2 separate regions of the Homo sapiens genome follow, and region 2 is linked to region 1. Evidence: fine-mapped expression QTL. A gene starts in region 1. The other region holds a variant in brackets. All regions are shown on one strand. Distances are from middle to middle.

Region 1 (2,911 bases):
GTGGGGTCCAGCTCTCCTTTTCCAGGGACACTGCTTCTTCAGAGCTGGTTAGTGTAGCAGCCCATGGGTTCTCTGCTGCGAAAAGACTGAACCCAATCCTAATACTAGAGGCAAAAGTCAGCCTCTTACCACAGTATCAAGGACCCAGGCAGGAGAGAATCAAAGGGCTCTGATTCTGGCTTAGTTTCCACCGCCAACTGGCCTCGTAACATAGTAACATAGGACAAATTAACCCTGCTCTCTGGGTCTGGATTTCCTTGTATCCAAAGTGGGGGCTGAGCAAGATCACAACCAAAATGCCTACTAAGCTGGATGTGGTGGCTACACCCGTAATCCCAGCACGTCGGGAGGCTAAGGTGGCAGATCGTTTGGGCCCAGGAGTTCGAGACCAGCCTGAGCAATATAACAAGACCTCGTCTCTACAAAAAAATACAAATATTAGCTGGGTATGGTGGCACCTGCCTATAGTCCCAGTTACTCCAGAGGCTGGGTTGGGAGGATTACTTGAGCCCAGCAGATGGAGCTGCAGTGAGCCGTGATCTGTCACTGCATTTCAGCCCTGGCGACAGAGCAAGACCTTGTCTCAAAAAAAGAAAAGAAATTGCCTACTAGCTCTTATATCTGACCTTAAATTTTGTCTGTGGCAGGAGGGGGAAAAAGCACCAGCCACCTAAGTGGGCAGGGGGAGCTGGGATTTAGAAGTCAGCATCCTTGTGCCTCTGCTCTTTGGTTAAATGACCTTGAACAGGTTATTCAACCTCTTTACGTCTCAGTTTCCTCACTGGTTTTTTAGGATTAAATGACGCTTGCGAAGGGTCTGGAGCAGGTAGGCACGCAGAAACCATTAGCTGGGACAGTGGAGGTCTTCCTCCTCCTCCTTTACCTGCCCCACAGCTGCACGTGAACCACCGATGGCGCCACCTTCTCCACCACCGCGGCGATGAAGTTGTAATTCCTCCTGAGCGGGCCTGCGCTTCTGGTCCCTATGAAAAAATACTGGCTCAAGAGTACGCCTCGAGGGAACCAGACCTGCTATCCTAGTTGGAAAAATGTTAAAGGCAAGACAGTGTTCAAAAGGTGCATGGGGAGGGAGAAACCACGTAGCAGCCGGTAAAGAGCCCCTGTTAAGGAGGAAAGGAAATCAGGAACACAGAGGTGTCGAATCCAGGAGGCAAATGACGCAGGAGGACCAGGCGCGAACTGTGCGGTCTCAGTGAGGTCTTGTTCCTTTACGCTCCTCCAGAGTTAGAAAGTGTTCCGAGGGCGCGCGCCCCCGCGGCTCACCTGTATCCCCGCAGTTCCCCCACTGCACAGGCACGGCCGGGACCTTGCCCAGGCGGCGCGCGGCGCGGTTTTCGGCCCGGAGCGCGCACATGCTGGGGTAGGTGCGCCTGTCGCTGCCGCACACGGCCCCTCCCAGCGTCGGGCAACCGCAGGTGCTGGGGAACCCGGGGCGCAGCGGCTGGAGGCACTGCAGCCCCGGGGCGCACGGTTGGCCCTGCGCCCCGCCGCAGACTTCACGCTCGGCCGCGGGGCAGACGCGGCAACAGCGGCACAGGTCGAACACCGGCGTGGTCCCCAGCGCGCAGGTGGGCAGCGCGGGGCAGCGCGTGGGCTGGCAGACCGCGGGGCAGGAGGGCTGGGTATGTAGCTTTTCAGCCCCGGCCCAGAGGACGGGCACCAGGAGCAGCAGCAGCCCCGGCAGGAGGCATCGTCCCAGCCCCGCGGTCCGCAGCTGAGGTCTAATCATCCTGTTCCTTCCTCGCTTCCACTCTTCAGTGACTTTACTCTGGACCTGCAAACCCTCCTAAATGAGAGACACTTTCTCCCGGCCACGGCGCCGCCTCCGCCGGCCCCCAAACTTTAAGGGGCAGAGCCTGGCATACCTCTGCATATACACACCCGTACATCCCCTACCACCCGCCCCCGTCGGCGCCCCGGAGCCAGGTTCTCCCCCAGGCAATGAGGGGAAGGTCTCTAGCCCTACCCGGAGCAGGAACCTACCTCCTGAAATCCCTAAAACCGACAATGAGGGCAGACTGATAAGAAAGCTCACCCACCCATGGTCAGAAGGTCAGTATTAGGAAAACACATGACCATATTTCAGTATTTCACATGGTTTTATTACAAAACAAGCCACAAAACAGTTTTAGAAAATTTTTGCTACATACCAATTAGGAGATCACATAAAATGAGAAGCGTAACAGTTTCCATGCACTCAGCCTAGAGCTTACAGCGAGTGCATTTCACAGCTGAAACATCACTGCTTTAAAACACAGAATCATGCTACCCCTTCATAAGCAGAGGGGGAGGAGGTCAAACAGTATGTTTTTGCCAAACGTTTGCTTTATCTGAACTCTATCTAGTATGAAGGACTGGCTGCCGCAGGCAATAACACAGAGAGGAAAAGGAACAAAGGAAGAAAAGGGTGCTGGCAGACAAGATTTAACAAACCTGTCCACTTCCGACATTTTGAAAGTTTATAAACAAAGCTCACTTGGGGACACTCAATTTCCAAAATGCTGTGACCTCCACATGTTATCTAATTTATACTGAAAACAAACCTACTAAACTCCACTCCTCAACTACTGAACCTGCTATTTATTCATGGGGTCTTTTTAGCCCATATAAGAGTATATTTATATTCAGAAATATAAAAGAAAAAAAATTTGCTTCAAGTAGACTAAGAAGCTGGACCTTAAAACTACTTTCTTTCTCGTGGGAGCTGAGTATTCAACTCAGAAATAGATGTATAACTCCAATATTCTGACCTGACATCAATCTCCATAATGTATACCTCAATACCCTTATGATGTCTCACTTAACACTAAAGGCCAAATTATTTTTACCAACCATCAGCTGACATTGAGTAAGCAAGTCTTTTGAAGATTTCAAAAGTAATAGATGGTGG
Region 2 (2,914 bases), 560 kb before region 1:
TTCTACCCAAAAGACACATGCACCCATATGTTCATCGCAGGACTATTTACAGTAGCAAAGACATGGAATCAACCAAGGTGTCCATCAATAGTGGATTGGATAAAGAAAATGTGGTACATATTCACCATGAAATACTACATAGCCATAAAAAATGAAATAATGTCTTTTACAGCACCATGGATACAGCTGGAAGACATTGTCATAAATGGACCAATGTAGGAACAGAAAAACAAATATGCACATTTTCCCTTAGAAGTGGGAGCTGAACATTGAATGCACATGGACACAAACATGGGAAAGACAGACTCTGGGAAATGCTTGAGGAGGAAGGGTGGGAAGGGCCTGTGGGTTGTAAGGCTACATATTGGGTACTGTAGTCACAGTTTGGTGATAGGCCAATTTGTACATCAAGTCTAAGTTACATGCAACTTACCCATGCAGCAAACCCACACATGTACCCCCTGAACCTAAAGTAAAAGTAGAAACAAGAATTTTCCAGATAAAGCAAAGTTGAGGGAGTTCATTGACAGCTAACCTTATGTGTGAGAAATGTTAGAGAAAGGAGGCTTTTAAGTTGGAAAACAAAAGAAAACAGAGAGCAACACAAAGCCATATAAAAATTATAAAGTTCTCTGATAAAGGTAAAAGTGTGATAAAATTGTCATAATTTTGGGACACAAATTTACTTTTAATTCTTTCATAGAATTTAAAAGACAAAAAATTCTCCTGGACATCTATATAATGGGTACACAACATGTCAAGATATAATGTGTTATATCAATAACATAAAATGGAAGTGAATCTATAAATAATAGAGGTTTGCATTTGACTGAAGTTACAAGTTTAAAATTGACTGTTATGACATTAAGATACTTCATCTAATTGTAATGATAACCACAAAGAGAGAATGTCTAGAGATTATATACAGAAGAAAATGAGAAGGAATTGAAATCATATAACACACAACAATCAATAAAACACAGAGGGAGGCACTAATAGAGAACCAAAAATCTACAAGGTATAAAGAAAGCAATAAAATAGCAGTGATAGGTTCTTTCCTATCAGTAATACATTTAAATGTAAATGGAATAAACTCTCATTACAAAAACAGATTAGCTGATCAGATGAAAAACAAGATCCAAGTATATGTTCTCTACAGGAGAATCACTTTAGATACAAGGACACACATTAGCCTAAAGGGAAAGGATTGTAAAACATATTTCATGCATATAGTAGCCAGAGAAGAGTCAAAATAGCTATATTAATATCAGACAAAATATACTGTAAACCAAAACTGTTACAAGAGACTAAAAAGGACACTAGTTACAGACGAAAGTGTCAGTTCACCAAGAAGATATAACAATTATAAGTACTTATAC[A/G]TCAAATATCAGAGCTTCTAAATATAGGAAGCAATTGTTTTTAAATAATTGAAGGAAACAATGGCAGCACAATAGTAGTTGGATACTTCAATACTCCACTTTCAACAATAGACAGAATAACTAGATAGAAGACGAGTAAGTAAATAATGAACTTGTACAACAGTATAAACCAATTAGACCTTACAGATATTTACAGAACATTGCACTCAACATTAGAATGCATGTTCTTGTCAAGAGCAATTGAACATTTACAGCACAGCATGTCTGTTAGACAATGAAACAAGTCTCAACAATTTTAAAAATATTCAAATTATGCAAAATATATTTTACAGTTTCAATGAAAAGAAACTAAAAATCAATGAGAGATGGAAAACTTGTATATCCAGAAATACATAGAAATCAAACAAGACAATCTTATATGATTGGCGAGTCAAAGAAATCACAAGGAAAAGTAGAAAATACTCTCTCAAATTAAAATGAAAACACAGTATACCAAAAGTTATGGGGTCCAGTGAAAACATTACTAGAAGGGAAGTTAATACCTCTAAACACACACGTTACAAAAGAAGAAAGATCTAAAATCGATAATCTAATGTTACATTTCAAGGAACTAATAAAATAAAATTAAATTAAACCCAAGCAAGCAGAAGAAAGAAATAGTAAAGATTAAAGCAGGGACAAATATAATAAAACTAGAAAACAAATAGAAAAAAATCAAGAAACAAAGATTTTGTTTTTTTGAAAAGATCAACAAAATTGGCAAACCCTTAGCTAGATTAAGAAACAAGAGAAAATACTCAAATAATTAAAATATGAAATGAAATAGGAGGTATTACAACTGATGCCACAGAAATAAAAACATTTTACAAGACAATTCTAGGAACAACTATATGCCAAAAAAGTGGATAAACTAGAGGAAATGTAGAAATTACTACACACACACAAACTATCAAGATTGCCTCGTGAAGAAATAGAAAATCTGAAAGACACAGAACTAGTAAAAAAATAGACATAGTATTCCAAAATCTGAATAAAGAAAATCCCAGGATAAGATTTCTACAGTGGAGATTTCTACGAAACATGTAAAGAAGATTTAACATCAATTCTTTTCAAACTCTTTCAAAGAATTAAGAAAAGGAAATACGTCTCAACTCATTCTATGAGGCCAGCATTACCTTAATAGCAATGCCAGACAAAGGCTCAACAAGAAAAGAAAACTAGAGCCCAATATCCCCATTACCCACTGATGCATAACTCCCCAACAAAATAATACGAAATTGAAGTCAGTAGCACGTTAAAGGGATTAAGCATCATGACCAAGTGGGATTCAATCCTGGAATGCGATGATGGCTCAACATATACAAATAAAACAATTTGATACACTATTTTAGCATAATGAAGGACAAAAACCTAGTGATCATCTCAATTGTTGTAGAAAATACATTTCATAAGATTTCACACACTTTTGTAATAAAAATATTAAATGAACTAGGAATAAAAGTGTGGTGTATAAGATGTGAACAATTACGTACTAT

Direction of the effects. Alleles are on the strand shown, and positions count from the first base shown. SD is a standard deviation of normalised expression in the study named.
For the expression in aorta of the gene that starts at base 1,786 in region 1, G is the low allele of the variant in region 2 and A is the other (moderate effect, 0.61 SD a copy in GTEx).

Evidence for each region. PIP is the estimated chance that this variant, and not a neighbour inherited with it, causes the effect.
Region 2: its variant is the best candidate, but not a certain one, in a credible set for the expression of HTRA4 in aorta (GTEx, PIP 0.74).

Annotation. Positions count from the first base shown.
Region 1 is chr8:38,973,103-38,976,013 of GRCh38, reverse strand. It overlaps HTRA4 (HtrA serine peptidase 4), which reads right to left and starts at 1,786. Exons shown (of 9, transcript NM_153692.4): 1 at 1,285-1,786; 2 at 884-983. The coding sequence starts at 1,750. PLEKHA2 (pleckstrin homology domain containing A2) reads right to left here. Exons shown (of 12, transcript NM_021623.2): 12 at 2,102-2,911. RefSeq lists an enhancer at 1,150-1,209 and a silencer at 1,390-1,619.
Region 2 is chr8:39,538,094-39,541,007 of GRCh38, reverse strand. No RefSeq gene overlaps it. Among named protein-coding and RNA genes, the nearest start is that of ADAM18, 45 kb to the left of the region's middle. The variant A/G (reference allele first, on the strand shown) is at 1,380.